Linked DNA regions of Homo sapiens. The protein of the gene in region 1 purifies or fractionates together with the protein of each later gene. This does not show direct contact. Each region holds a gene or a part of one and is shown on either strand. Other genes may lie near its edges.

Evidence for each region.
Region 2: the proteins of CSN1S1 (region 1) and EMILIN3 purify together in Homo sapiens (affinity purification with mass spectrometry; 2 studies listed by BioGRID and IntAct, with this or other methods). This does not show direct contact.
Region 3: the proteins of CSN1S1 (region 1) and LMF1 purify together in Homo sapiens (affinity purification with mass spectrometry; one large-scale study listed by BioGRID and IntAct). This does not show direct contact.

The regions. Positions count from the first base shown.
Region 1 is NC_000004.12:69,941,005-69,944,165, forward strand, and holds part of CSN1S1 (alpha-S1-casein isoform 1 precursor), read left to right. Parts: intron 1-14; coding exon 15-56; intron 57-1,041; coding exon 1,042-1,059; intron 1,060-1,531; coding exon 1,532-1,573; intron 1,574-3,161. UniProt on the Homo sapiens protein: Important role in the capacity of milk to transport calcium phosphate. Casoxin D acts as opioid antagonist and has vasorelaxing activity mediated by bradykinin B1 receptors.
Region 2 is NC_000020.11:41,359,426-41,361,762, reverse strand, and holds the end of EMILIN3 (EMILIN-3 precursor), read left to right. Parts: coding exon 1-495; 3' UTR 496-1,801; downstream 1,802-2,337.
Region 3 is NC_000016.10:957,433-961,090, forward strand, and holds part of LMF1 (lipase maturation factor 1), read right to left. Parts: intron 1-3,658. UniProt on the Homo sapiens protein: Involved in the maturation of specific proteins in the endoplasmic reticulum. Required for maturation and transport of active lipoprotein lipase (LPL) through the secretory pathway. Each LMF1 molecule chaperones 50 or more molecules of LPL.

The DNA.
Region 1 (3,161 bases):
TTCTTTTTAAATAGGAACAGTTTTGTAGACTGAACGAATACAACCAACTTCAGCTGGTAATATTTTATTCATTATAATACAAAATCATATTCTACTATAGAATTAAAACATATTAAATTTTAAATTGGGGCCATTTCTAAATATATTTTTATTTTTCTTAAGAAATTATTTATTCTAGCCTTGACCAATAATTGGCAAGTTATTTGTATGATTGCCGGCATATTTGCGGGCAATGCTCATTCTCTTTATTCCTGGACTAAAGTTCTATATATTATCCATACTTACTAACCAGGGAGAAAGTGACTACATTCTACTGCAAATCCACTTTTAACCTCCCTGATGATACATTATGTCCTGGTTGAGAATTTCACAAATATGCTTACCTGTGAAATCACAGATATGTCAAATAAACTTTCCATTTAAGGAAACAGGATAGATTCTGGGAAAGGAAACAGGAATGCTAAACATCAGATTTGCTTCTGTCAAAACTCACATAATCTGCTTAACACTGGTTTTGACCCTTTTGAGTAACATAAAAGTCTTTCTTTTGGGAGGACAATAAAAACCTTTCAGTAACTACAAACAAATTTGACGTAATGAAGGCTTTGGGAAATGCTTGGTTTTAGTTCAGCAAAATTGCATGCTAGCATTTTTAATCGTTATCAATAGAGGAAGATGAAAATCAGTAATGAATTTAATATGGACCCTAATTGTTACTCTAGTTTCCATTTTCAGGTAACTTGTGTTTAAAATAGTATCCAAATAAATTTAAACACATTAGTACCCCAATAGAATTCATCATTATTGATCTAGAAAATTACCTGAATAATATATTTTAGTACCATAGATATGATATGGCTAGTCTGTAACCTCCACAACTGTTAGAACCTACTTGTCCTCCTGAGAGATTTTGTAGTATTTTACAGTGGTATCTCCAGTATTTAACATTGTCCCTGAACAAATGAAGGTACCCAGCAAATGTTTCTTATTAATGAGTAAATAAAATGAAAATACTAAAACAGAATGTTTTCTCCTCCCTAGCAAGCTGCCCATGCCCAGGTGAGATTATTTATTAAATCTAAAATATTTTAGTATTTCCTTCATGTGTTATGTTTTTATAATGCATGATTCTCTTTTAACATAAATATATTCTGAGAGAGTGTTCTACCAACACTATCTGATAATATTTTACTTAAAAGTCACAAAAGACAAAATTTAAATAATTAATAAATAGCCATAAATAGAAAAATATGTAGTCCTAGAGAAATGGTAGGTTATTATTTTTCCTCAGAGTATGAACCTTACTAATTGTTTATTTTTCCAAACTATAGTGAGCTTAGCCTTTAGCTAAAATTTTTTTCTGACATTAGAAAATAAAAAGTGTTTTGACATTTTTTGCTAACTGTGGCATAGAATACAGTCTATTCTAAATTTCATGAATGATGTTATGTATACTTCTGGTGCAATGTAAGATAAATGTGTTGTACCAGAAGATGTCTAAGTAATTTAGAATGTGTTTCCTTTTATGCAGGAGCAAATTCGCAGAATGAATGAAAACAGCCATGTCCAAGTGGTAATATTTTGCTTAATATATTACAAAACGATAATATTTTGTTAAGCTTAAATATGTTTGCTCTTAAATAGCCCCCTACTCTTGAAGAGATTTTTTTCTTCTCAAACATTTCTCACTCCCAACTTAAATCTCAGTTCTGACAACTTCTAAGCATATGACCTTGAGCACATTGTGTATTCTCTTGGACCTTTGGTTTCTCATTTGTGGAGAAAAACAATATGTGTCTATCAATTTATTTCCTCCTCCAAAACTCCCATGTCTTGATGTTTACAGTGACATATTGTGTCTTCACATTTAAAGATAATAACTGTATGTTTAATTCAGTGTCTCTTGTCCATTAATGATTCAATTTATGTACAACATGCTAATTAAAAAAAAAAAAACCATGTAAAGAAAGCCATGGAACATCCTCCACAACTAGAGAAAGAAACTTTTAGTTCCTCACAGTACATCAAATTTTACCCTCAGTTTTTTTTTTCTGAAATTCTGTAATCACTGTCACTGGCTAAAGTAAAAAGAAAATAAAGGCAAGTATTCTCTTCATTTGGGCCCCAAAGAATTACTTGGTCTTAATTTTCCATGTGAATATTATTATTATTATTATTATTATTATTATTATTATTATTAGACAGATTCTCACACTGTTGCTGAGCTGGAGTGCAGTGGCACAATCTCAGGTCCCTGCAACCTCTGCCTCCCGGGTTCTAGTGATGCTCATACCTTAGCATCCCAAAGTAGGTGGGATTACCGGCAAGCATCACGATGCCCAGCTAATTTTTGTATTTTTAGTAGAGACAGGTTTTCACCATGTTGGCCAGGTTGGTCTCAAACTCCTGACCTCAAGTGATCCACTCGCCTTGGCCTCCCAAAGTGCTGGGATTACAGGCATGACCTATTACTTCAATGTAATTATTTTTAAAAAAAGTGTGACAACTATATATGCATTTTTCATATTAATGAGGGTTTGGAGTAGCAATAATTTGCCCTATCCTCATGTTCAGTTGGATGTAAATTACTAAACTAGTGCCTTAGTTTGTTTTGTGCTGCTATAGCGGAATACCACAGACTAAGTAATTTATAATGAACAGAAATTTATTTGGTTAACAGTTGTGGAGGCTGTAAGTCCAAGATTGAGAGGCCAACATCTGTCAAGCTAGGGCCTTCTTGTTTCATCATCCCATGGTGGAAGAGCAAAAAAGAATACACAAGAGAGGGTCAAACTCAGTCAAAACAAACTCACCCTTGCAACAGTAAGCCCACTCCTATGATAATAGCATTAATTAATTTGTGAGAGCAGAGCCCTTGTGAACTAATCAGTTCTTCAAAGTCCCACTTCTCATCACTGTTGTATTGCATGTTAAGTTTCCAACATATGATCTTTGGGAAACACATTCAAATCATAGACACTTATTTCTGTCTGTCTGTCTGTCTCTCTCTCTCTCTCTCTCGGTCTCTCTATTAAGAACAGGGCCAGTTCTATCTTGAGGTAGTTACCTTATTTTATCTTAAAAAATTCTAGATTTTATATTTGTTTTAATCTTTACATAGGCAGGTGTCCACAGCAACATTTTAAATGCTTTTAAAGATT
Region 2 (2,337 bases), on another chromosome or scaffold:
GACTCTGTCAGCCAGTACTCTGATGCCTTCTTGGCTGCCAACACGTCCCTGGATGAGCGGGAACGCAAGGTGGAAGCCGAAGTCCAGGCCATCCAGGAGCAGGTCAGCAGCCAAGGCTCCAGGCTTCAGGCTGGCCACAGGCAGGTCCTGAACCTGCGTGGGGAGCTGGAGCAACTCAAGGCTGGTGTGGCCAAGGTGGCCAGTGGGCTGAGCCGCTGCCAGGACACAGCCCAGAAACTTCAGCACACAGTGGGACACTTTGACCAGCGGGTGGCACAAGTGGAGGGTGCGTGCAGGAGGCTGGGCCTGCTGGCCGCGGGCCTGGACAGCTTGCCCACTGAGCCACTGAGGCCCAGAGAGGGCCTGTGGAGCCATGTGGACCAGCTGAATCGTACGCTGGCCCAGCACACGCAGGACATTGCCCGCCTCCGGGATGACCTACTGGACTGCCAGGCCCAGCTGGCTGAGCAGGTGCGGCCAGGGCAAGCCAACTAGACAGGCTGGCCAGGACCCAACCCCTAGATCCCACCAACTCGGGGAACATCACCCCAGAGCCCAGCCTTATCCAGCAGCGCCTTCCAGCCTTCCCTGGCTAGCCCAAATGGCACTAAGGAGGCCACTGAGGGAATCCTCCACGTGGCTGTCCCAGCCACCAAAACCCATGCACAGTGCTGCAGAAACTGGACAGTTCCGGACAGCGGTCAAGGCAAGGATGTCATGCTTGAAGGCCAGGGTAGACTTGAGAGAGTTCACATTCCACTGTCAGCAAATCAGTGTCTGGACAGCCAGCTGCAGGGCCTGAGCATGGCTGGCAGGGGCAGCTGCTGTGGCAAACTGGCCTTGATCAGTGTCCGTATGTAAGGCCTTGAGAGGACCCTGCAGGCAGTCAGCACCAGCCTCAGCAACTGTGCAGAGACCTACAGGCCCACAGCCAGTGGCCTGTCCGCATTGCCCTGTGCCCACAAGCAACAGTCCACAGCCCTTGGTGGCTTCTGTTCCTTGTCCCCTCGGCTTCTCTTCGCAGCCATCAGGACTAGGTTTGTGCAGGAAGGTGATGCCCACTGGAACTCTCCTCACACCTGGCAGCTTCATGGATGTTGTATCTGAACTAAGGACCAGAGGCTGCCAGATGTTTCTGGCTCCTCACGTGTCCTTCAGGACAGAACAGAAGCACAAAGACTCAGCCAAGAGTTCTCTTTATTCCCTTTGATCCTCCCCCAAGGTGAGGGCTTAGGCAGCTGTAGAACCCCAGGAAAGAACGGAATCCAGGCAATCTGTTTAGAGACCCCCCACTCCAAATTTATCCTTTTCCTTTCCTTCCCCTAAGATGTTTCCAGGGCCCTCTGGTGCCCACACTGTCCTCTTCCTTCCACTTGGGGGTGGGGAAATCCTTCCTGCGAGGTCAGGGCATTTCTCTACAAAGTGGCCTGAATGAGGCCAGGCCCTGAGAAGGAGCCACCAGCTGGAGGAAAGGGGCTCCAAGCCTTGCTTTTAACACCCCTGCAAAACCCCCACCCTCCCAAGATGTTCACAAAAGGTGAGAAATTCAGGTACGAAACCATCAATGGACAACTTGAAAATGCATGTTCCTCAGGCCTATGCAGTTCCCAGAGACTCTTGACACCGGTCTCTGCTGAGGCTCCCAGCCTCAGTTTCCCCCACAGCAGCACGGGCCCCACTGTGCTGCTCTTCAGGTCCCCACAGCCCTGCCTTTGGTTCCTGGACATTTGGTATTCTGCCCTCCACTCTGGTACTATCAGAGTAGGGCAGGCTCTGGATTAAAGCTTTTAGCCGGTCTAAAGCTACTTTCTTCAAAGACAGTGGGAGGAGAGGTTGCTGGGGCATCAGCCCTGCTTCCCACAGCTCCTTAGGCAAGAGCTTACCCAGCAGCTGTGAGCACCAAGCTGGCCAGCAGAGGCTGGGGGAGGACTTTCAGGCCAACACCTGCCCCAGCTGAGTTTGGGACTGTCCTTAAGCGAGGTCTGGAGAGAGGCAGCGGCAGCAGCCGGACGGGGAGCAGGCCAAGCCGGAACCACAGCCTGCAGGTGTGGGTGTGTGTCATGTGCTGAGATGCCAGGGCACCAGCAAGGGGGATATGTTGGCAGTGATGTCTGGCTTCGGAGGGTACAGTCCTGGCTCCCAGACAAGGGGCGGGGAGAACACTGTGTCCTTCCAGAGGCTGTACCACACTCCCACTGCTGTCACCCTTCACTGAAGCCTCGAGCCTCGGTAGGGCCTCCCTCTTCTCCCTGTCCTATCAAGACTTACAGCAAGGTCCCAGGTTGACAGGGAGACAGATATCAAGGGCATAGAAAACCCTGCAAGGAGGCCTGGCAT
Region 3 (3,658 bases), on another chromosome or scaffold:
AAAAATGAAACAAGATCTAACTATATGAAGAGATAGACCATGTTCATGGATTGGAAAAATCAAAATCATTAAGGTGTCAATTTGATCCATAAATTCGGCACAATCTGAACCAAACACCCAGTCAGTGCTTCCGCCGAGGCTGACAAGCTGATTCTAGAATATACATGGGAGAGCAAAGGGATTAAAAAGCCAAAATCATCTGGAAAAGAACAGAGGTGGAGGACTCATGTTACCCAATTTCAAGACTTACTAAAAAGCTAATCAAGACCACATCAAGACAGCGCAGTATTGATTAAGGAAGAGCCGCAGAACTCAATGGAATGGAAGAGACGGCCCAGACACAGCCCCCCTGCCCCCGACCCGACACACAGAGTGAACAAATTCTGACAAAGGTTCAAAGGCAACTACACAGACAAAGAGCAGCCTTGGGCCGGGCGTGGTGGCTCACACCTGTCATCCCAGCACTTTGGGAGGCTGAGGCAGGAGGATCGCTTGAGCCCAGGAATTCCAGAGCAGCCTGGGCAACATAGTGAGACTCAGTCTCTACAAAATAAATAAAAAAACAAAGAAGAGTCTCTGTAACAATCATGTTGGAACAGATGGATGTCCACATGCAAAAAGATGGACCTGAACACACTTCACACCTTACACAAAAATTAACCAAAAAGGATCATAGACCTAAATGTAAAACATAAAAGCATAAGACTTCCAGATGGAAATATAGAAGAAAATCTATGTGACTTGGGTTTGGCAACAAGTTTTTAGATACAACACCAAAAGCATAATCTATGAAATTAGAAACTGTAAATTGAACTTTATCAAACTGAAAAACTTTTGATCTGCAAAAGCTACTTTTAACAGAATGAAAACACAAGCCGCAGATTGGAAGAAAATACTGGCAAATCACACATCTGATAAAGGATTTGTATCTAGAATATTTAAAGAACTTTTAAAATTCAATAATTAGAAAACAAACAACCCAATGTTAAAGGTGGGAAGAAAAAACCAGGCCACAAGGTCTGAACAGACATAGGAAGGTGTACGGATGGCAAATAACACGTGAAAAGATGCTCAACATCCTTCATCACTGCGGAAATGCCCATGAAAACCACAGCGTGCTGTCACCACACACACGTCACATGGCCGAAGTGCTTGAAAACGGACAGTGCCCAGGCCGGGCGCGGTGGCTCATGCCTGTAATCCCAGCGCTTTGGGAGGCCGAGGTGGGCAGATCACCTGAGGTCAGGAGTTCAAGACCAGCCTGGCCAATGTGGTGAAACCCCGTCTCTACTAAAAATACAAAAATTAGCTGGGCATAGTGGTGCACACCTGGAATCCCAGCTACTCGCAAGGCTGAGGCAGGAGAATTGCTTGAACCCAGGAGGCGGAGGTTGGAGTGAGCCGACACAGCGCCACTGCACTCCAGCCTCGGCGACAGAGTAAGACTGTCTCAAAAAAAAAACCAAAAAAACAAAACAAAAAAAACACGAACATGGACAGTGCCCAATGCTGCAGAAGGTTCGGGACAGCAGGAGTGCCCTCGCTGTGCCGGGGATGCTGTGGCCTACCACTGTGGATGGCAGACGGTGGCATCTGACCCAGATAATGAAGGGTTACCTTACAAATCAGCTACTGCACCTCTCAGGCCTTCAACCTGAAAGTGTGCTCGCACAGAAGCCTCATGCAGATGCTCATAGCAGCTCTGTTCATAGCCACTAAAAACTAGAAACAAGGAAGACATCCTTCACGGTGGAAGTGGATAAATAACCGGAGGTGCATTTGTGCAACAGAAAAATAATCAGAGATAAGAATGCAGCTGTTGGTTCAGGCAATAACATGGATGAATCTTAAGTGCATTTTGCTAAGCAAAAGAATCTAGACCCAACAGGCTATATACTGCGTGATTTCATTCGTATGTCACACTGGAAAAGGCAAAACCAGAGGGACGGGAGACAGACCCGGGCGTGCCAGGGGCTGGTGCAGGGGAAGTGGTCACTCCCATGCACGGGGGACTTGGGGCTGGAGCTGGGGTGATGGAGGCAAAGCCCACAGCACTGAGCATTACACGAGATGAACTTCAATGTGCACAAACTATTGGGGGAAGACCCGACCAGGAGGTTGGGGGATGCAGATAGAATACAGGCTCCACACGCACGGATGTGAAACAGAAACACACTGGCCAGAGGGCAGGAGCCGCCTAAGCAACTCCGGAAAATGTTCTGAGTGGAGACCGCAAGGCCAGAAGGAGCTGTACACAAACGCTGCACTCCAGGGCTTTCCCCCCCGGGCCTGGGTGGACAATTCTCGCACGTGCACCAGGGCTGAGCAGATGCTAGAGGAGTCAGGGGAGCCAGGTTCCCACTAGCAGAGAGGGAGGATTCAGATGGGCCAGCAGGGAAGACTGGAATACACCGTGTGCCAGGACGGGAGGATGGAATACACCATGTTCCAGGACGGAAGGCTGGAATACACCGTGTGCCAGGTGAGAGTCAGAGTCATCGGCATGGACCAGGTTGACCTTCGTATACTTACAGATGGATAGGTGGATACGACAGAGAAGCAATCAAATGTGTGAAATGAGATAGTGACACACAGAGCCTAGCTCTACCCAGGAAGAGGGCCAGCAGCTGTGACACCCCGGGAGCAACGGCCCTCCCAGTGCCCAGACTGAAGTTTCTATGCTCCCCTAAAAAGAACCAGGGCTCCTTGGAAACAACTCATTCTAGGGCTGGGGCAGAGAAACAGAAGCTGGGCCGGAAGCATCCCTGCGGGGAAGGAGGGGAAACCCACCAGTGGTCAAAGCTGGAGGAGCTGAGCAGCAAACTCACAGTGACAGCACTGGATCATAACCCAGACAAAGACTCACAGTGACAACACTGGATCACAACCCAGACACAGACTCACGGTGACAGCACGGGATCACGACCCAGACACAGACTCACGGTGACAGCACGGGATCACGACCCAGACACAGACTCACGGTGACAGCACGGGATCACGACCCAGACACAGACTCACGGTGACAGCACGGGATCACGACCCAGACACAGACTCACGGTGACAACACTGGATCACAACCCAGACACCATCTCATGGTGACAACACGGGATCACGACCCAGACACAGACTCACGGTGACAGCACGGGATCACGACCCAGACACAGACTCACGGTGACAACACGGGATCACGACCCAGACAGACTCACGGTGACAGCACGGGATCACGACCCAGACACAGACTCACGGTGACAGCACGGGATCACGACCCAGACACAGACTCACGGTGACAGCACGGGATCACGACCCAGACAGACTCACGGTGACAGCACGGGATCACGACCCAGACACAGACTCACGGTGACAGCACGGGATCACGACCCAGACACAGACTCACGGTGACAGCACGGGATCACGACCCAGACACAGACTCACGGTGACAACACGGGATCACGACCCAGACAGACTCACGGTGACAGCACGGGATCACGACCCAGACACAGACTCACGGTGACAGCACGGGATCACGACCCAGACACAGACTCACGGTGACAGCACGGGATCACGACCCAGACAGACTCACGGTGACAGCACGGGATCACGACCCAGACACAGACTCACGGTGACAGCACGGGATCACGACCCAGACACAGACTCACGG